Linked DNA regions of Homo sapiens: region 1 is linked to region 2. The links come from fine-mapping of genetic effects on gene expression. A gene starts in region 2. The other region holds a variant in brackets. All regions are shown on one strand. Distances are between the middles of the regions. Region 1 overlaps SMYD2 (SET and MYND domain containing 2). Region 2 holds the start of SMYD2 (SET and MYND domain containing 2).

Region 1 (11,886 bases), 50 kb after region 2:
GGTGATCTGCCCACCTTGGACTCCCAAAGTGCTGGGATTACAGGCGTGAGCCAGCGGGCCCGTACAACGTTTCTTTTAAAGGGTGAGAAGGTGGCCTGTAGGTGATTTGGCTGAGACTTGAAAGGCAAGGTCTCAGTGCCTTAGCTTTAAGCCCTCAATCCCTCTGCCTCCCTAACAGAGAGAGGGATAGCAGTTAGATTAGATGAATAAGGGCTTCATATTTACCACCTCACCTTATGAGATGAGCATTGGATTGATTCCTTTTTTTTGAGACAGAGTTTCGCTGTTGTTGCCCAGGCTGGAGTGCAATGGCACAATCTTGGCTTACTGCAGCCTCCGCCTCCTGGGTTCAAATGATTCTCCTGCCTCAGCCTCCCAAGTAGCTGGGATTACAGGCATGCGCCACCACGCCTGGATAATTTTGTATTTGTATTTTTTTTTAGTAGAGATGGGGTTTCTCCATGTTGGTCAGGCTGGTTTCGAACTCCCGACCTCAGGTGATCTGCCCGCCTCAGCTTCCTAAAGTGCTGAGATTACAGGCGTGAGCTACCACGCCCAGCCAGATTGATTCTTTTCTTTAAAGACACAGTGATTCAGTGATAGGCTTAAGATCATACAACAAAGCTGTAGCAGAATTGAGATTAGACTCCAGGTATCTTAACTCCCATGCAAGTGTGCAAACGTCAGTCCTCAGAGTCTTGGGGGTCTTTGGCGTGCCTGGACCACTGTATTTAGATGGTAGGTAGGCTACACTAAGGGATGCATCACAATTCTGCTTGTTTGTTTATGCATGGAACTGATAAGTAAATTTTGTTTGAACGATAACATGGGCAAAAGAAAGGGTTTAAAACCACTACACCAAAACATCTTCCTAATTTGTTAAAAGTCAAAATTTAAAAAAATGATCTCTACCCAGAAAGAAGCTCCAGCTCATTTTTTTCCTTTCTCCCTTTTTCTTGCTGCAGGTTAACTGTAATGGCTTCACAATTGAAGATGAAGAACTTTCTCATTTGGGATCAGCGATATTTCCTGAGTAGGCTGTGTTTGACTTCATTTCTTTCCTTTTTACTTACTTAACACTAATTTGATTTTTTTTTCATTTTTAAATAACCCACCTAACTGCATGTGGCAGACATGAAACTCAAAGTGAATTAAAACAGCTTTTTAATCTGCCAGATTTCAAAATATTTCCCCTACACTTAAGGATCCAAAGGTAGTAGTTAAGAGAACAGTTGCTTGTTAAGTCCTGCTAGGCAGAGAGCTGTTATTAAAGAATATTTTATAGCGCGCATAGAAGGAACAGCTCATGCCCTGCTGAGAAATTTGCTTTCTGCCTATCTGTGGTTCTGGAAATCTTTCCATTTCTTATGCTCAAAGTGAAACATTAATTGCCAACCAAGAATTGGCCACAAGCTTGAGTACAGACTATATGAGCTTCTTCTCCATCTGTCCTTTTTGATAAATACCAGTACAGAAACAGCACAATTTGGAGGGAGAATATGCTGAAGTAGTGGGCCGGATAAAAATTTCAAAGAACTGTAGGATTTTCTCTGGATTTGAAGAATACTTGAGTAATTCAGCAAAGGCTAGCCAGTTGACAAATGGAGATCTTTATAGATCTGACTTTAATGGATTGCCAAGAATGATTTTGCCTTTGTCTGTCTCATGGAGTGAGTATTTCCAAAATGCTTCAGTCCCTGAAATCAAACCCTTGCTTCACAGATAGAGCCAAGGAATTCATCATGCATCCCCCCAGCCTCCAAATTAATCCACATTGTAGATAAGTTCTATCCAGAGGGAGGTTGCTTAACATATACTGCAGGGGCCTTTGCCTGTAGGTTGCCACATAGGTAGGAAACCCTTAATACTCATGCATTTGCCCTGAGTGATGTGCCTGCCCTTAGCTATGTGCGTCTCTGCCAGACGCTGTGCGTTGTGTAGGTCAGAAAGAGAAGAATCCGTACAGTCTGTGTCTCGTGAGCAGCTGTCACAGGTTTACTTGAACCAGAGAGACTAAAAAGTTTGTTCATGTAATATTTGTCCTTGGGGCCAAAATGGCATCATCTGCAGTTGGAATTCTGGAAGTGAGGAAAGAAGCTTTTTTTTTTTTTTTTTTTTTTTAACTTTGGCCCCTGGGAAAAGGCAGGAGAAAAAGAGGGCATTGGACCCACTGAAGAAGGCGTGTATTGACACCTTTATAACTGAAATGAACTATGGAATGTCTCTGTTCTTAATATCTTAAAAGACTAAAAGATTAAGAGTAAGGTGCTGCCGGGCACGCCTTACAGGTGTGGTGGCTCACACCTATAATCCCAGCACTTTGGGAGGCCGAAGCGGGCAGATCACGAGGTCAGGAGTTGGAGACCAGCCTGACCAACATGGTGAAACCCCGTCTCTACTAAAAATACAAAAATTAGCTGGGCATGGTGGCGCACACCTGTAATCCCAGCTACTCAGGAGGCTGAGGCAGCAGAATCACTTGAACCCGGGAGGTGGAGGTTGCAGTGAGCTGAGATCGCGCCACTGCACTCCAGCCTGGACAACAAACCGAGACTCCATCTCAAAAAAAAAAAAAAAAAAAGAGTGAGGTGCTTTGAGGATTCTCACCTGTCAGTGGTTGCCAACAGAATTATGATACCAAGAACATGAATTGTTTTAGGGTCTTTGACTTAGTGCATTTCCCCCACCTTCATTAAAGAGATACCCGAGTCTGCCTTCAGCTATTTAATACTTCCGCAAGATGGTTTTAGAAATGTGCTTTTATTTTAATACAACTACCCTTCGATGCATTTGTTTATTTGATTTCCTAGGACCTGATTCCTTGGGCATCACTTTCCAGGAAGCCAAGTGGGCCTTGGTGCAGTGCAGAGGTGGCCCTCCCCGAGGTCAAGACCAGGAAGCTGCTACCTGTTTATCTCAGGCACCAGGCTAACCACATACTTTGCTTAGGCCTTTAGCAGCCAGGAGGTGGGGGAGTGCACTTGGCCATAGGCCATAGCCAGCCTGGGGCAGTTCATCCTCATCAGGCTTCGAAACCCCTTTCCCTTTTTGTATTCTCGGAGCAAGCAGGAGAGGGGCTGTGGTCTCTGGAGGGTCAGGGAGGTGACATTGGCCACCAGAGCAATGACACACATGGCTGTGAGTGCCCGTAGGAGCATGAGCCCCAGTTTCTGGGCAGTTTTAATTGGGGGAAAAAATCCCTTTGGGCTGAAATCATATCAGCATTGTGATTTCAAAGGCAGCATTTTCAGAGATCAAGCACTTTTTCCCTGTAGTTTAGAAATTTCTGTTCTCAGAACTTTGACCTTCATATAATCAGAAAGCTCAAAGCACCTCGCATAGGCGAATCTCTCTCTCTCCTTCTCGCTGTCCCTGAAAAGCAGACAGTGAGCAGCAGGAGCAGTAATGTCCCAATTTTCCAGATGAGGAAATTGAGGTGCAGAGAAACTCAGACGGGTGTCTCCGGGTCTCTCAGGGGATCACACACCCTTCCTCCCTTAGGAAGCTGGCATTTCTCAACATCTGAAAAAAACGTGAGAAATAATCCACTAATACAAAAAGCTGCTTGAAAGCGACAACGCACCTGTGTTTGACAGTGTATAGTGAAGTAGCAATTAGCTGTGGGTATTGGGTTCTGAGAGCTGCATTCTATCAGGGAGGAATATTTGTGGCATTTGTTGTTTTTGCTGTTGTGTGTTTTTTGGTTTTGGCTTAGATAGTACTTGAATTGTGGATTTCAGTTTTTAATATGGTGAAAGTGTGAGATGGTAGATAGGATTATCAGTGCATGCAGAACAACCTCTTAGAATGTGATAGCCAACTATTAGATTTTTAAAAAATGTCTTGCAAAGATTCAGTTCCTCTGACTTAGCAAGTAAGTAGTGAAGGAAGCTAAACAGTCTGCCTATCTCATTTTAAAAACTGGGTTTTCTCTTCTGACTGACAGTGTTGCATTGATGAATCATAGCTGTTGCCCCAATGTCATTGTGACCTACAAAGGGACCCTGGCAGAAGTCAGAGCTGTACAGGAAATCAAGCCGGGAGAGGAGGTGAGTTCATGGCTATGGGTGGCTGCAGCAGGGGGCTTGAGACTGCTCTTTAAAAGGCAATGTGGACAGATCTGTGCAGTGTCACTTGACAGTATGAGTTGTGAATGCCTCCAGCAGTTTAGCTGAGTCTGCCCTCAGGCTCTCCAGGAGTCAGTGATCAGATTTGTAACCTGTAGTTTAGATTCCCACACTTTGGGGCTTCTGTTTGGTACATACATTTCCATCTCTGGTCAAGAAAAACAGGAAGTAATAAATTTGAGTCAAATTTGTCCCAAAGCTTTATAGAGATTTACAGAGAAAGAAGACATTTACTACCAAAATGACCACAGTCAAACTTTTGATTATCTTTAGAGTCTCTGTATCCCTATTGCCAAACAACTGAGCTTGAGCCTTATTTTATTTTATTTTTTTTGGTGAATTCTTGCTTGTTCCCCACCATCCCTCAAAGGTCCAAAGCAAAAGAAAGCAAGCAACGCAGCAGTAGCTAAAGAGCTGGCACTCCAAGGGACACATCAGAATTTCGTGTTCTATCAGTTCCACATCTGAACTTCAGGTCGCAGTTCACTTTTTAGGAATCTAAATCAAAAGTCCAGGTATATGCAGTAATAGGAGAAGTCAAGGCAGTCTGTGGCCAAGGGGCACCTTAGTTTCCCTCCTCAGCTTCAGGACGTGGAGAGAACCAGTCTTCCCATCACCTGCTCAGCGATTCCCTGTTCCCTTCCCATGTGTGATTCCTGACTACCTCATGAGACGTCTCACCTGGGAAGGGCTGGCCTGATGGATTGCTGTAGTATGCTCTGTGTTCTTAAGTAAATTCCCAGCAAGACACATGAGTTTTTAGGAACTTGTAATCACACTTGGGTTAATTTCAGTTTAGCAATTTGTAATGCTATTTTACGGTGCATGCCTGGGTATTTGAAGTGTGAAGTGTAAAATATAACTGTCAGCGTGCTGAATGACAAGTGCTTTGCTTTCTCTGGAAGGCACTCACTAATCCACAGCTGCACTGGGAGCTGAAGCCCAAGATGCAGGCAGGTTGGCCCTTCTACCTTCAGCTAAATCCATTACGATGAGGGTGTGTCCCCTTTCGGCTGGGGTGTCTGAGTTTCCAAAGGTCTTATGGAGACTGCTCTGAAGCCTTTCTTGAAACAGATAATTGCAGCCAGTCAGAATGCAGTCACCCAGGCTCCAGTGCACCTGTGGGCTGACTGCAGAGATGAGCAGGTTGTCACCTAAGCTGGCTCAGTCTGGCTGGGAGCAGTGGTACTGGAGTGGCCTTTGTCGCCATCTTCTGGAAGCTTCCGCATGTTGCACTGTGAGTCAGTCATTACAGAGATTGTTGGCAGGCTCTTGTGGTGTGAGGCAGGGCAGGGGTGGCTGCAGTTTCCTTTTGCCCTTATGTTCTCCCAGATCTGAAACGCAGTAACCTCATTTTTGGGAAGTCAGTGCTTTGGGGATTACTTACCCTTCAGAGAAGGAGAAACCCCATTCCCCAGGGTTTCGGGGTGAGCTGCAACGTGTCCAGTACCTCCCCATGGGCTGGGGAGAGCTTAGCTGCCCCTGCAGCACCCAGCCCTGTGCGTGTCCTCCCCTGCCTGCCTGGTGGTGCCCGTGGTCACTGGCACGCTAGCGGCTTCATGAGATCCATCTGTTCAGTCAGACATTTGCCTGATTGTGTGGGATGAGTAGCCAGTGCTGTCCCAGTGAGTAGATAATGGACATCTAAATGCTGGTCTCCTCCATATGCTCCAAGCCTTAGTTACAGACCCCATTAGGAAAAGGCAAGGACGGTGGAGCCCCATGAACCAAAGGTAAGGACTTTCCAAGCTCGCTGCCCTGCAGGATCAGGAGCTGCCCGCTGGGCCAGGCCGCAGCATTCTGGTGTCCTAGAAGATGTGTTCACCCTCCGCTGGCCACCCAGAGCTGTGGGTCCCAGCCCACTGAGTGGAGCCTCTTGCTCCATTGCCAGTTGATGTGAGGAGAAGGGGAGCTTAGCTGCATGTGTGTGGTGTGTGCGTGCTCATGCCCTCCCCTGCACGCAGCATCCAGTGATGACGGCAACGAAGCATTTGCGCCGTCTCAGGTGGTGAAACATGAAACTACATGAAGGCCAGGCAGAGGCAGCTGAGGGAGGCAGGGATCCTCTGAACCCTCCAGGACACTGTTTTAAGGACTCCTTGATTCTACAGACTCTTTCCACTAACCTGCACCTTGGCTTCAGCTCCCAGTTCAGCTGTGGATTAGTGAACACCTTCCAGAGAAAGCCAACGTCAGGTGGCTGCTCAGTTCAGGAATTCCGTGCCTTAAAGTAAACAGCGCATTCCTCCGCTGCAGCCCGCCTTATCCTCTGCATGGGCCCTGCAGGTGACTGCAAAGGCACGGGAATGACAAGGATTGAGTTTACCTGTAGCAGACTGAAGC[T/G]TTATCTTTTTGGACCCCGTAGGTTTTTACCAGCTATATTGATCTCCTGTACCCAACGGAAGATAGAAATGACCGGTTAAGAGATTCTTATTTCTTTACCTGTGAGTGCCAGGAGTGTACCACCAAGGACAAGGTAAGGTTGTTCATTGGGCAAGAGCGCTGACTGCACTCTGATCTCAGGACCTCTCTGCTGAAGAGCTTGTCTGACTTGGCGGATCTCCTCTAGGATCTTTTTGACCCTTTAAACCCTCCTTACAAAGACAGCCAAAGGGAATCTAGTTAGACCAGGTCTCTGTTCAGACCTGCTCCTAGTAGCTAAAGAAAACATTTCCATTACACTGTACAAACAGGAGAAAGGTCTGCCGAACTGCTCTTTCTTGAAAAGAAACAACTGCTCAAAGGAGGAGGGGGGAAAAGCACATGAGTATAATCTCTAGGCTTTCCAACCTGTTCACCAGAATATGTGGAAGTTTCCCTGGCATTTTCCAAATTGTTCCGTCAATGCCATCCTTCCTTATTCTAGTCTCTTGATTCGTAGATGTGTAAACACATATATCTGCCCATAGCCAACACATTTTAGATAAGGAGTATCTAGAAAATTAATCTTTTTGTTTTGTTTCTGTAAAAAGGTAATGGAGTACTGAATTTCTTCAGATGCATTGCCTGATTTCCTTTCATTCTTTTGTAACCTTGGAATGGGCCAGTGTCGACCGCTGTGTGGGAATGTGTATTATATGAGAGGTTTCCCTATCAGTGTGGTTTCCATGGGCGGTAACGCCTTGCCCTTGTGGACGTTTCCTTCAGGATAAGGCCAAGGTGGAAATCCGGAAGCTCAGCGATCCCCCAAAGGCAGAAGCCATCCGAGACATGGTCAGATATGCACGCAACGTCATTGAAGAGTTCCGGAGGGCCAAGCACTATAAATATATCCTTTACAACTGCCCTGATAGCTTATTATCCCTCGCCAACAAGGCAAGGTGGGAAGTTGGAAAGAGGGAGCAGGAGAAGGATGGATTTAAGATTCTGAAAACCAAAGGAGGAATGTCTCCTAGTAAATGTGTAAAGGCGTACTGACCACCCACAATGTGGTGTCCATCCTGTTGGAGTTGTATGATTTTATTTCCCCTTATTTTGGCTAGTTTGGCTGGGAGCCCCATGTGGTGGAGGACCATGAAGGACAGAGCCTTGATGGCCTTGTGCTTTGGGTATTTTACTTTGGGCAGGGCACAGTGCCAAGGGCCTTGCTTATTTCAGCTCTCCTCACTGGCACACTCTGAGCAGGGACTCTGCTCATTCCCATGCAGCAGATGAGGAAACAGCCTGATAGATATTAAGTAATTTGCCCAAAGGACACAGCTGATGGTGATAGGATCTAGGATTTTGTCCCAGCTCTATCAGAATCCATATTCTTAACCATTGTATTGTAGCATTTTCTTGGGAGTTGAAAAGGGATTCGATTTGTACTCTAAAGGGTAGAATTTAAAACCAGTGAGAGGAAATGAGAGAAAGGCACATTGTTTCTCAGCATAAGAAAGAACTTTGCCACAGTGGGAGTCGTGCTCAGGGTTCCAACTTGGGTGAGGATTTGAATTTGATTAGAATCGTGATTTTAATCAACATTGTTTACATCAGAACTAGGGGTCTGGACCCTGCGGCTAAAATTCTTGAGTTGAGCGGTTCCGACCTTCAGGTTTTCTTCATTTGTTTTTTCTGGAGAAATGTAATTCCTTTCACTTTTGCTTGGCTTTCTGTAAGTTACTTTTTCATGGGGTAAGGGTGAGAGTGGAGTGGACGAAATAACTCCTTGAACCCAGCCTGGGGAAGCCTCCAGGCAGCTTGGGCCCGGTGGCCCTTTCCTTGACTCCACAGCACCCCCTAGTGAGCTGCTGGAGATCTGCGAGCTCAGCCAGGAGAAGATGAGCTCTGTGTTTGAGGACAGTAACGTGTACATGTTGCACATGATGTACCAGGCCATGGGTGTCTGCTTGTACATGCAGGACTGGGAAGGAGCCCTGCAATATGGACAGAAAATCATTAAGCCCTACAGGTGATTGCAGAGGCTGTTCTAATCATCCACGGAGTGGAATTTGGTTGTTTAGAATGTATACGATAGTGTCATCTTCCTGCCCATTGCTGAGACTTGCCTAGCGCAGCTGCCTCTTCTCTGCACCCACATCTGGAGGTGCTGGTGCAGGGCACTGCTCCCGAGTCAGGCCTGTTCTCACCATCATCCCAAGGAGACAGGTTGAGGTTATGCAGCGGATACTGGGGCAAGATCCCTCCCAGGTCCATCCAGGGCCATATCCATAGTAGTTAACTCAGGCTAGTTTTGAGAAGCCACTAGTTTGCTTCTTTTCCCACCCACTGCTTCCAAGTTTAATTACTAAGTGGTGGTCTCAGAAACCCTGGTTTTCATCATTACTCACACCATCCCCTTCTTTTGCTTTTTCAAATTACAGCCCCAGTTTGCAAATGGGGAAGCTCTGGGACCAGTGGGTTGACCGTGGTTATCTAATCTCCCCACCCCAGGTTTGGAAAAAAGAAACAAAAATTGCTTTTTAATTTGTAGTAATAATGAATATTAGCCCTGGAGAGATTTCCTGCCTGAGAGGGTTACTAAACCTAAAAGTGGGTGACAGACGGAAGTTGTGGCTTTGTCCTCTGACTCGGACTAGACACTTCAGGGCTGAGGTGGCCTAGATGGGATCACTGGAGCTCTTTTTAAAGGCACTGATATTATGCATTTACAGGGTACGTCCAACACCAAGTGGGCCAAGTGAATCAGGGTCGCTGGGCATTAGACCCAGAAATCTGTGTTCTGGAAGCATCCCAGGTGTTTCTCAGGAGTTTGAGAAGCCCTCAGTCTCCTTCCACTTCCGAGATTAGGGTCTGTGAAGGTTGTGTCTGGTCTGAATGTCCACTGCCCACTCCACCCTCTACTTACCCCACTGTGCCCTGATTAGCCAGCAGGGGGAGCCCAAAGGAAGCCAGCTCTTAAAATCTGCTCTTGGAAACAGAATTTGTTAAATTGGGGATAAACTCAAACCTTCCTTTTCTCCTAGAGTGTGTGAGGAAGTGCACTGGCCTCATGCGCAGTTCTCTGTGTGAGATCTGTAGGGAGAGAGGAGCAGACAGACAGCATCCCAGCCCTGTGGTTCTCCCAGCAGGGCCTTGCTCTGCTAGACCCATCTTTATCTGCGTGAGCCCCTCCCGGAAGCCCAGCTCTGGTCTTCTGTGGGGCCGTGGGTCCCAGGGCTGCCTCCTACCCAGGAATACAGCTAGAACATGTCTTTTTGGACTGACTTTCAGGAGACACAGGGTGGAACAGCCTAGCCTTTAAATAAACACCTCTTACACACATGTAAACACACACACTGGCTCACCCACCAGCTGCCTCTGGGCCCTGTTCTTAGGGAAATGGCTGTTTCCCAGGCAGACCCCATCAGTCAGTCTTCAGGTACAGCCGGAGAGAACACTTGCTGTATCTAAAGCCCCTGCTGGACAATGGGGAAAGAACATCCAGAAGACACAGGAAGTGTTCTGACTTCAGAGCACTTAACTGTTTTGCTAAACCAACCCATATCATAGTGTGACAGAAAGCTGGGGTCTTAAGACACATTGGGGTGGGTGGGGGTTGGGTGGGTGGCTGTATGTCTGAGTACCTAAGGTGATAGGCCTAATTGCTGCCTTCATAAATGGGACATTTACTTCACAAGCTGTTTTCCCAGGGTCTTCCTCTGGGTATGTCTGAAATATAAAAATCTGGACTGGGATTGAAGATTGTGTTTACAAATGCTTTTGAATAGGATTTCTCCTGCAGTTGTTACGTAGCTTTTCAGAAACACACAAACTACAAATAATGAACAACATCTGCAATGATTCGGCAGGGTGGCAGCATCCACGCTCTCCACCCAAACCCTGGTGGGATTTGGAGAGGCCGCTGGTGGGCAGAGGTTGGCCCTAAGCATGGCAGCCTCCGGCTTACTGCACCCAGCCTGTGGGGCGGCTCAGTAGCCGCTGACATGGTGGCCTGTTGTCTCTTCTCTTGTTCTAGTAAGCACTATCCTTTGTACTCCCTCAACGTGGCCTCCATGTGGTTGAAGCTAGGGAGACTCTACATGGGCCTGGAACACAAAGCCGCAGGGGAGAAAGCCCTGAAGAAGGTATGTCTGTAACTCGGCCTTAGGATTCCCAGTGGCCAGATGGCCTCCTTAGCGCACCTCCTTCATGCCTCACCAGGCTGAATGGCTGAAGCAGTGGAGGGTGAGCAGCTCTCACCCACCCTCTTGCCGTGGGAGCAGCGGGGGTGGGTCCTGCAGGTGAGGGGGGAGTGAGAGAGTGCACCTCTGCTGTGTTTGTGTCCAGGCCTCCCTCAAAGGGAATGGGTGCCCACATCCAGAGGGCTGGCCGTGATCACAGGCCCAGCCTGTGCCTGGAGGAATTCTCCATTTGTTTGACCTTTGGGATTTTCAGAATGATGATCCCCAGTTGTGAAATCAAGGAGGTAGGATATGGAGAGTTAGGGTTAGGATGTTAGAATTGCGCATTTGCTGTTTCTAAAATGCACTTAATCATCCTCTCAGTTCATTGAGGACCAGTTACATACCAAGACCCTCGTGTGCTTTTCCTTTGAATTCTCACAAAACCGAGAGGCTTTCCTGATGAAGAAAGTGAGGTTCAAGCAGGTTTAAGTGAGTAATAGCCTAGGGTACATGGTGGGGCCTTCATTCAAATGAGGGTCTAAATTGAAAGCTTCGGCTCCTCCCACTCAAGCTGTGATGAAACTGGTGGGGAGCCAGAACCCTGGGCAGCATTCGCCTTTGGTTTGATGGCGGCCCTGTGCTGCCCAGGAGCCAGGCCCCGACCCTCACATCATGGGAGGTCAGAGTCATCATCCTGAGTATTGATTCTCATTGTTTGTGATGTGGAATTCACAGTCAATACAGTGTAATTTAGGGGATAGTCCATTTACTCCTGTAAGAAACTTTATAAAATGCTGGGGCCATGGACAGGGCCTGCAGGCCTAATCTTTCACCTTCTCCAAAGTTTCCCAATAGACTATTTGCGAAGATGGAATAAGGCCCACATCCCAAATAGAAGGGTCAGGGCACAGCCAGGCTGGAAGGGAGCACAGAACAAAATTTTCTGTTTTAAACCATGGAATTTGTCTTCTGAGAATTAGCCATTTGGGTCACAACTGCAAAGTGTGTCAGGTGATTAAGTAATAGATCAATGAAAGCTGGAGCAGATCTGAGCAAGGAACATGAGTCTTGAAATGAATGCCTGGGCAGAGTCGGCACCTGGAACAGGTGATTTCCGAAGGCTTGCACTGTTACTTGGCCTGCCTCCTCTTGGCTTGAGATCTAGGAGGAGAATATATAATAGATAGGAATGCCTGTCATAGTCACAGGCCATT
Region 2 (10,636 bases):
ATGTCAGTTGTCCTTGGACATATTTTTTATGGTTCATATTCCCTCTCCTTTCTCTTCACTCGCCCCAATTACCGTGTCCTGTTAATTAAAAGTTCTTCAAATCCATGTCCCTCCTTCCCATTGCCACCGTCACTGCCCTTGTTCATTCCAGTAACATCTCTCCTCTGGACCCTTTATTGCATCAGGCGCCTCAGTTCCCTCTGTCTCCTCAGCCCCTTCTAGTGTATTCTCTATTTAGCTAAAAAATGAACTTTCTACAGCAAAACTCGGATCATGTCAGCCAAAATTCTTCTGACTCACGTGCCTACACAGTGCCGTCTAGCTCCTAGGCTCATGGGTTTCATGATGGGGCCCACTCCTGCCCATCCACCTTCATCCCAAGTACTCTAAGGAAAGCTGTAGCTCTGGCTGAACAGAGAGGCAGCATGGTGGAGTGGTTCTGAGCCTGGACTCACTGCTAGACAGCTTGTTCATACATGTCACTTCTGTGATTCTGTGTCTGGAATTTATTCCTTCCGGTGGGTTCTTGGTCTCGCTGACTTCAAGAATGAAGCTGCAGACCCTCGCCATGAGTGTTACAGTTCTTAAAGATGGTGTGTCCGGAGTTTGTTCCTTCAGATGTTCAGATGTGTCTGGAGTTTCTTCCTGGGGTAGGTGCATGGTCTCGCTGACTTCAGGGGTGAAGCCACAGACCTTCGCAGTCAGTGTTACAGCTCTTAAAGGTGGCGCGTCCGGAGTTGTTTGTTCCTCCTGGTGGGTTCATGGTCTCGCTGACTTCAGGAATGAAGCCGCAGACCCTTGCAGTGAGTGTTACAGCTCATAAAGGTAGTGCACATCCAGAGTCAGGAGCAGCAAGATTTATTGTGAAGCGCAAAAGAACAAAGCTTCCACAGTGTGGAAGGGGACCCGAGCGGGTTGCCACTGCTGGCCTGGGTGGCCAGCTTTTATTCCCTTATTTGGCCCCGCCCACATCCTGCTGATCGGTCCATTTTACAGAAAGCTGATTGGTCCATTTTACAGAGTGCTGACTGGTATACTTACAATCCTTTAGCTAGACACAGAGTGCTGATTGTTGCATTTACAATCCTTTAGCTAGACACAGAGCACTGACTGGTGCGTTTTTACAGAGTGCTGATTGGTGCATTTACAATCCTCTAGCTAGACACAGAGCACTGATTGGTGTGTTTTTACAGAGTCCTGACTGGTGCATTTACAATCCTCTAGCTAGACAGAAAAGTTCTCCAAGCCCCCACTCGACCCAGGAAGTCCAGCTAGCTTCACCTCTCAATTTGGTATTCTCCTCTGTGGAATGTCATTAGAAGGATTATATGAGAATATATTTTAAAGGTACACCTGGTACATAGTGAGAGCTATGGAAACATTCGTTAAGTCCAAGAAAAATTGTCCATTGGACTGTCAAAGTCTCTCCTACCCCAGTGAATTTCAACTGTGGTCTTTATTATTTATTTATTTATTGAGACAGTCTCACTCTGTGGCTAGGCTGGAGTGCAATAGCACAATCTGGGCTCACTGCAACCTCCACCTCCCGGTTTCAAGGTATTCTCCTGCCTCAGCCTCCCAAGTGGCTGGGATTACAGGCACACACCACCACACCTGGCTAATTTTTTGCATTTTTAGTAGTGACGGGATTTCACCGTGTTGGCCAGGATGGTCTCAGTCTCCTGACCTTGTGATCCACCGGCCTCAGCCTCCCCAAGTGCGGAGATTACACGTGTGAGCCACCATTCCCAGCCTATTTTTTTTATTTTTGAGACAAGGCTTAGCTCCATTGCCCAGGCTGGAGTGCAGTGGCATGATCAAAGCTCACTGAAACCTCTGCCTCCCAGGCTCAGGCGATCCTCCTTCCTCAGCCTCCTGATTAGCTGGGACTACAGGTGCATGCCACCACGCCCAGCTAATGTGTTGCTCTTGTTGTAGAGATGGGGTTTCATCACATTGCCAAGGTTGGTCTCAAACTCTTGGGCTCGAGTGATCCACCTACCTCAGCCTCCTAAACTGCTGGGATTACAGGCATGAGCCACCATGCCCAGCTCTGCACTGTTAGTCTTAAGCCCATTTTGGGAACTTTGCTTTCCCTTGGTCAATCTTTCCTCTTCCTTCTAGAAGCTAAAATGTCAGGTTCTCTGTGAAGCCTTCCTACTGCACTTTGTTCAGCTCCCTATTAAAATTTTATTGGATTATTTTATTAGCTCCCTGTGGCTGCTATGACAAATTACCACAAAACAGGTGTCTTAAAACAACAGAAATTTATTCTCTCATAGTTCTAGAGGCCAGAAGTCTGAAATTAGATTAACAGGCTGAAGTGAGGGTATTGGCAAAGCCACACTCCCTCCCGAGGCTCTAGGGGAAAGGTGTTCCTTGCCTCTTCCAGCTCTGGTGGCTGCCAGCATTCCTTAGCCCATCACTGTATCCCTCTCATCACTGCCTCCATAGTCACATTGCTGCCTCCTCTCCTGTCTGTGTCAAATTTCCTTCTGTCCTTCATCAGAAAACTTGCAACTGCACAGAGAACCCACCTGGATGTTCCAGGATACTCTCACTCTCTCAAGATCCTTAAAACACATTTGCAAGACCCTTTGAAGCCATTTATAGATTCCAGGGATTGGAACCTAATATCTATGAGTGCCAACATTCAGCACTTCATAACTGTTTTCATGTATGTTGGTCTTTACACCTTGGTATGACTAGGATCTATCACAGTGTAAGTACATAGTATGTCCTCAATAAGTGACATGTAGACATAGATGCAGAACTATACAGCATCTAGGCCCTTTGCTCACGTTCACTGGGATACCTTCTTTGCTAAGGCTTCATTTCCCTAGGCCAGAGCTATTTCTTTCATGTGCTAATCTGTGGTTGGAAGGATCTTTTACTCATAAATTAGATCAACTTCTAGGTTAGAGAAATTAAGCAAAGGAGTTTTCGTCCTTGTACCACTTCTCCTGAGTTTCAGTGAGGCAAAGTAACCAAAAACACTCCTTTCAAATTCCATACCTCCTACGTTATGGAGCAGAGGGCGTAGGAAAAGTGGATGGGTCCTGGCTGCTCAAAGACTTCACGGAATGTGAGATTACAGAGTGGCAGAGTGACAAGTATGGGCTTCATGAAGAGCGCTGTCATCAGTCTCCCCGGGCTGGTTTATTGCCATTCTTTGGCTGTTTATTTTAAACACAGTTTTCTTAGTAATTTAAGCTCCTAAATTCATGGCTACTGCTTCAGTGACCATTTCCCCATCTCGAGTCATTTAAGTTCATCACAGGGATTTTTCTGAAATGAGGCGGTTTCTTTTCCAGTGTTCTCAAATCACAGTCACCTCCACCCTCAAGAATAAGCCAGCACTCATCTGGAAAGATAATTCGGTAGCTATGTAATTGCTTTTTTCTCAGCTGTGGAAATCTTTCCCAATTAAAGTGGAAAAAGTTACTTGCAATAAAAAAAGTAAACAGGTAGATTACTTTGCACAATTAATCATTGAAACAGTAAACTGTCTACTGTATTGTAATTGTTTACTTCTACGTCAGTCTTTTCATCTTTTTGCTGGTTAGAGCCCCCAGAAATCAGAATGAGATTCCATGACGTTTATTCAACCTTTAAATATTTTTTCCATTCTCTCTGTGTTCCAGGAGTAGTGATAAGAGCTGGTGATGTAAGGGTAACAAAAACAGACTCATTCCCTGCCCTCATGGAGCTTGTACAGTCTGGTGGAGGATGTAAACACTAATCAGGTCATCACACAGACAAATGCAAACTGTCAGTGGTCTCACATGCCAAGGCTGTTTATATACATGTAAACAGTTATGAAGTGCTGAATGTTGGCACCCCAGCCAACCCACAATGCTGCTGGCAGATCAGTCTAAAACACTGGACTCAATGTGCCACCCCTCACTTAAACGCTTTAACTGGCTCTCCCATGGCCTCTGGGGCAGAACTCACCTCTGGAGAAGATGCTCTTCAGCTGTTCCTGCCTCATTTCCTGTCCTCTCTTCCAGATGCTCAGGGGCCCCCAACTACAAGCTCTGTGCTTTCAGGGTCTTCTGTCTTTGTACGCAGTTCTCTCTGCCCAGAAAACTCTTCTCCCCACCTCCACTTGCAAAATCCTGTCCATCCTTCAGGCTCAGCTCTAACGTTACTTGAATGTGATGCCTGTCTTGACTGTTTAGCAGGCTAAAGCTGTCACTCCCTGCCTGTACTACCACAGAACATTTTGTACAAGCCACCATAACTGCACTTATCCCAGTGAACTGTGTTTGTTTGCAGCAAAACACTGTGGTTAGGAACATGGACCTTGAATTCAGACTGACTTGGAAACCAAATTCTGCAATTTATTGTGTGGCCTTGAAAATCATTCCTTCTGGGTCTTAGTTTCCTTCCTAATTTTGGCAATGAGGGGCATAATACCTAACTCATTAGCCTGTTGTAAAGATAAACCAGATAATGTGTTTAATGATGGAGCACGATGCCTGGTCAACAATACTCAATAACTAATGGTATTATCAAACTTGAATGTGCCAAATGCAAGGACCTAGGACTACATTTTGTCCACTTTTTTTTTTTTTTTTTTTTTGAGACAGAGTTTCGCTCTTCTTGCGCAGGCTGGAGTGCAATGGTGCGATTTTGGCTCACAGCAACCTCCACCTCCCAGGTTCAAGCGATTCTCCTGCCTCAGCCTCCCGAGTAGCTGGGATTACAGGCATGCACCACCACACCTGGCTAATTTTGTATTTTTAGTAGAGATGAGGTTTCTCCATGTTGGTCAGGCTGGTCTTGAACTCTCGACCTCAGGTGATCCGCCTACCTCGGCCTCCCAAAGTGCTGGGATTACAGGCGTGAGCCACCACAGCCGGCTGATGTCCATCTTTCTATCCCAGTTGCTGGCCATAGTCAGTCGAAGTTTCTTAAAATGCATAAATGAAAATACTATCATAACTTCCTTTACTTGAAGACGGGTTAGAGGCTTATTTAGTTTGCCACTAATAAGGGCTTTTTTGTTTTCTTTTGAGACAAGGTCCTGCTCTGTCACCCAGGCTGGAGTATAATGGAGTCACCACAGCTCACTGCAACCTTGACTTCCCAGGCTCAAGCTATCCTCCCACCTCAGCACCACTTGAGAGGTGGTTAATTTCCCATAGAGACGGGGTCTTTATGTTGCCCAAGCTGGTCTCCAACTCTCCAATTCCTGGGCTCAAATGATCCTCCCACCTTGGCCTCCCACAGTGTTGGGATTACAGGGCTGAGCCACCACACCCAGCTGATAAAGACATTTTACTGAAATGCCAAAAATTCCACTGATTTTACATCTCCAATCATATTAATCCTTTCCCTTTGCTCAACCAGTCCTGAACTTACACAGGTAACTGTTTGAGGTCCTATTTTGAAGTAGTGGTTTCTGCTAAATGATCTCGTCACAATTTTAGTCTTTACTGCATGTACATCAATTCCAGTCTTTACATAATCATGTGGAACACGGATTATATTTTCCTTTCTCATATGAAAAGTAATAGCGTGCATGTGTATAGGATTTACGTTTCAGGCTTTGTGGGCTTTAAATCCTTTGACTCCTAACCCAAGTGACTTTTCTAAGATCACAGTTCGTGGGTGGTCAAGCATATTAAAACTACTGCAAACTCTAGCGCAGTGTCCTGGACACTGGCCACAGCATCGCATTATCCCCCAACAGCCTAAATTCCTTGAAGGCAAGGTTCTCTCTGGCTTCCTCTGCAACGTTCGCAGCATGCCTCAGAGACTCGGTGAGCTGGGCCGGCCAATGCATTTCCTCTTCCGTCCATGTAATTCCACTAGAGGAGCAGAGGGCAAACTACGTTCCCATTAAAGCCACAAGGTTTAAAAACCTCTAACCTTGGAAAAGCACACTTCAACCCTCTGCACACCAAACTTCTCTACTGTGGTTTCCCCTCTGCCGCTTTCTCCTTGGCGTTCCCCGATCACTGCCTCTAGGGTCTTTACAAGGGACAGCGAACGTAAGGTTTCGGAGCTGGCTTCGCCCCCTTCTATTTACCGGGGGCTGGTCATCCTTCGGGCCAGGCTGACTGTCTAGGGGTGGCCCTCGGATACCTGGTCCCCGCAGGTGACCCCCCTCCCTCCCACCGAGGAGGAGGGCGCGTCCCGCTCGCTCCGTGGAGACGCCGCGGAGGCGCACACGCCTCACGCCTCCTCGCAGAAGCCACAGGGGCTGCGGCTCTTTGTCGCGGCCACACCGGAAACGGCCCGGAGCGCGCGCGGGGCGGCCGCCGAGGGTCGCGGCGCTAGGCGGGGCCGCCGGGCCCGTCCCCCTCCCCGCGGGGGCGCGCGAGGCCCGGGCGGGGCCGCCCTCCCTTCCGGGGAGCGGGGAGCCGCCGCCGCGTCCGCCGGGCGGCTCCCACCCCGCCCCCCGCAGCTCTAGGTGACGCGTCTCCAATAACAGCTCGCCGGGAGCCGCAGCTCGGGCACAGCCGGCGGCCGCGCCCCGCCGCCACCATGAGGGCCGAGGGCCTCGGCGGCCTGGAGCGCTTCTGCAGCCCGGGCAAAGGCCGGGGGCTGCGGGCTCTGCAGCCCTTCCAGGTGGGGGACTTGCTGTTCTCCTGCCCGGCCTATGCCTACGTGCTCACGGTCAACGAGCGGGGCAACCACTGCGAGTACTGCTTCACCAGGTAGGGCGGCGGCGGCGGCGGCGGCGGGCGGGAGCCGGGGGCGCCGAGCGGGAGGCTTGGACGGCGGCGCCAGGAAGTGCGTGCGGCTCGCGGGGTCCTAGCGCCGGCCCTTGGGGCGGGGTGGGGGGCGGGGAGGGGAGGAGGCCCCGCGCTGCGGCCCCGCGCTGCAGCCCCACGCCAGGCGCCACGTGCGAGAGGAAACAGGACCGGTGCCCCGCTGCACGCCCTGCACTGCACGTTTTCAGAGTTGCTCACGCTGGATGCGCAAACCCGGGCGTGCAGGTTCCTGCCCTCAAATGTGGGCTCCGAGCCAGGCTTGTTCCAAGCCTGGGCACTCACTGCCCTCCCGGTGCATTGGCAGCGGAGCCCCAAATTTGGGCAGCCACGGGCTGTCACCTTTAACTTATGCTTCCTGCGGTGTGTTCTGTTACCCACAGTCCAGCCCTGCCTCAGATTGGCCGTTTCTTCCAAGGAATTTAATGACTTAGTATATGTCTTGTAAAGTACGCTTACATGTTAAAGTACGCTTACATGGGTGTTTGGAGGGACGCCAGTGGGCACTGACCACACCCCCTGGATTCTGAGGTGCTGCGACGATGAGTTGCAGTGTCCAGTTTCGGTTTGGGATTAGGAAAACATGGTCGCAGGAAGGGATTGGGCAAGATGTGTGGTTGCTAATGGTATTTAATTGTAAGATACCATATGTATATATGTGTCTGTGTTTGTATATATGATGCATATACATTTGCACACACCAACACATAATTATATCCTCAACTCTTATGAGAGTTTCAGAGCTTAAAGGCACATTAGAAATCACCAATTCAGTCTTGTCTTTCACTTAATGGATGAGAAAACTAAAGCCCAGAGAGAAAGTGGAGTTACCTTTATCCATTCACACCAGTAGTGAAGGGAGTGAAATCTGGCCTTATTCACTTCTGCCTATTTCTCACTGGTTAGGTGCTCAGTAAATTTACTAAGGCAGGAGGCATGGCATTGGGGTTAAGTTTATATCAGGCCTTCCAGTACTCTGAGTAGAGACCATGATTTGCTTTCTTTGAACCTCAGTTTCTTCATCTTTGAAATGGAGATTCCTGGGCTGGATTAAGCTGACCTGCGGTCCTGCAGGGACCTTTTGAGTACAGGTCTCAAGTCCAGCATACTCAATCTCTCAGACCTGTGTGCCTCATTCTACAATAAGACGTAGCAAAAGAAGGGACAAAGGCTAAATATTGTAGTAATCTTGCCCAGACTCCCTGCCAGAACTGTCTTCCGCTTGGGGGGACCTGGAAAGGAACTAGACACGGAATCATGCCGTGGGCAGCTTAAGGGCTGTATGTGATGTGGCTCTTTGAATTGGTGAGCCAAGAGCTAAAGGGTCATGGCACCACTTTGCAACGTTTGAGTGAAGTGAGCATTGGGTTTTCCCAAAGTTAAAAAGGCTGCTGTGACTGGTCCCTTGATCTTCTGAGCCTTGCTGTGGCTCGGAGTCTGCAGCAGCGTGGGTGTCTGCAGTGGCAGGAGCAAAGCAGGTCAGGCAGCACAGAAGGAGCCTCCATCAGGGATCCTGGCAATTCCTGGAAGCCATCGCCTAAGACCATGGATGCCAGGCACATAGTAGGTGCTTACTTTATATGGGTAGTTGCCAGCCCTGGCCCCCAGTGAATGAAAGATCAAATCCCTCTGGATTTAGAAGGGATGAGAAGAACTGAGAGATGCTTCTCTTTAGCTTTAAGTCTCCTAATTGTATCTACTACGCATACCCCCAACCTTAGAACATTAATGGATGGTCAGATGCAAGTTCACAAAGCATTCAGCCTGGATTATTCTGCCATATGTGACAGTTTGCTGCCTCTTTTGTTGTTAAATTTTTCTGATTGACATTTATTAGTGTTACTCACTGTTGCCTTGGGTCCCTCACCAGGGCTGCAACTTGCAATGGGGTGTTATTACAACTTGCAAACCACTTCTCTGTTTGATTTCCCTGACCTTATGTCAATACCCGTAGTTTATTTCCTCTCTCTCCCCAAAGAATTATTTGAAGTCAATTAAAATAATACAAAAGAAATAATATCCATGATACTTATGCAATTAGAAATATCCTTGTACCCTACTTCATGATTTCTATTAAATCTGAATCATTTACTATTAGTGGTTAGGTCATCTGATAGATTCAGCATCAGTTCCTCTGTCAGCAATTTGTATATGACTTAGGACAAATCAGTCTGTCCAGATGTATGAGGGGAACGTGTATTTTCCTCCATAGGGCCTCAAAGTATAGGAGTAGAATTCTGGAAATGTTCATACTTACAGGTCAAAATCTGCTGCCTGCCCCAGCTCCACACACCCAAAAGAAAGCTACCCCTTATCCTTTCTTTTGCCAGAAGTTTAACATAAACAATACTGCTTAAGATAAATGAATGACCCAAGAATTTCCATGTCATACTAATTGTATCAGGATCTAACTTTTTTTGAAGAAAAGAAAAGTGATTTCTTTAGGTAGGAATAAGTATATGCTATAAATTGAGAAATAATGGAAAATGTCTTAAGTCTCAACAGAATGGGATTCTTACGGTCAGGGCAATTCAGACAAAGGTTTGCTTTGGGGAATTTTTAATTTGTATCACATTTCTCAGTCTGGTGGGTGCCATTGGAGAACATGCGTATCTTGCCTGAACTGCTAGAAGGCAGCTCCTAATAATATTATATAAAGTTTTTCCACTTGGAAGCTGTCCCTATCAGACTTCTCAGATACACTTTATACACACATACACACATAAATGCACACATACACATTTTGGCCATTTATCACCATTTTTTGGTGTGGTTTTTTTTTTTTTTTTTTTTTTTGAGACAGAGTTTCGCTCTTGTTGCCCAGGCTGGAGTGCAGTGGCGTGATCTCAGCTCACCACAACCTCCACCTCCCCGGTTCAAGCAATTCCTCTGCCTCAGCCTCCCGAGTAGCTGGGATTACAGGAATGCGTCACCACACCTGGCTAATTTTGTATTTTTAGTAGAGACAGGGTTTCTCCATGTTGGTCAGGCTGGTCTCAAACTCCCGGCCTCCCAAAGTGCTGGGATTACAGGCATGAGCCACTGCGCCGGGCCAAGTATGTTGTATTTTAAACTAAGTTTTAGACTTTTTTTTTTTTTTGAAACAGTCTCGTCTCACTCTGTTGCCCAGGCTGGAGTGCAGTGGCACGATCTTGGCTCACTGCAACCTCCGCCTCCCGGGTTCAAGTGATTTCCGACTAATTTTTGTATTTTTAGTAGAGACAGGGTTTCATCATGTTGGCCAGGCTGGTCTCGAACTCCTGACCTCAAGTGATCCACCCACCTCAGCCTCTCAAAGTGCTAGGATTACAGGCGTGAGCCACCGTGCCTGGCCTAGACATATTTTAACCCCCAATGTGATTTGTCTCAGAAGGAGAGAAATCTGCTTTAACCCAGTGTTCCATCTAAATATTCATTCTATGTGCCATTCTTCAGGTAGGCAGATCTTTTGATCTTTAGTCTCCCTTTTGATCTTTAGTTCTCTTGGCTCATGGGTTATTTAAGGATGAGATTATTGACATTTCTTTGTTTGTTCTGAGTGTAGGGGGAACCAGGAAAGCCCATTTAGCCTCCTTGGAATAGAGCTGTTAGAACCCAGTTTCAGTGAATTTCGGTCATGTCTGGCTTAGATTAGTTGTTTTAAAAATTAAATTGTTTGCCTGAGCCAAACCCTGTGATTAAGGTGTCCTATTTCAGCAGTTATAAAGGCTTTTTTTCCTCATGTCCCCCAGATTTATTCTCTAGCGTATTCATCTTAGCTTTCCTCTTGTTTTATCAAACCGGCAGAATAATTTTTAGTTGATCTTAATCAGTATTAAGGGCCATGAAATCCTGATGCTGTTTTCCTGAAGTTCTCTGAACTAGCCCTGGTTCTGGCTGCCTGAAGCTGTGCATGAGAAGGGGACCTTGTGCCC

Evidence for each region. PIP is the estimated chance that this variant, and not a neighbour inherited with it, causes the effect.
Region 1: its variant is fine-mapped to the expression of SMYD2 in aorta (GTEx, PIP above 0.99).

The regions. Positions count from the first base shown.
Region 1 is chr1:214,323,676-214,335,561 of GRCh38, forward strand. It overlaps SMYD2 (SET and MYND domain containing 2), which reads left to right. Exons shown (of 12, transcript NM_020197.3): 6 at 966-1,033; 7 at 3,947-4,049; 8 at 6,493-6,603; 9 at 7,275-7,395; 10 at 8,343-8,517; 11 at 10,525-10,633. Among named protein-coding and RNA genes, the nearest start is that of SMYD2, 48 kb to the left of the region's middle. RefSeq lists a silencer at 5,171-5,465 and an enhancer at 5,392-5,481. The variant T/G (reference allele first, on the strand shown) is at 6,471.
Region 2 is chr1:214,274,760-214,285,395 of GRCh38, forward strand. SMYD2 (SET and MYND domain containing 2) reads left to right here and starts at 6,400. Exons shown (of 12, transcript NM_020197.3): 1 at 6,400-6,668. The coding sequence starts at 6,496. It overlaps LOC124904509 (a long non-coding RNA gene), which reads right to left and starts at 6,277. Exons shown (of 2, transcript XR_007066876.1): 1 at 3,955-6,277. RefSeq lists an enhancer at 5,355-5,920 and silencers at 6,200-6,489, 6,510-6,629, 6,660-6,819.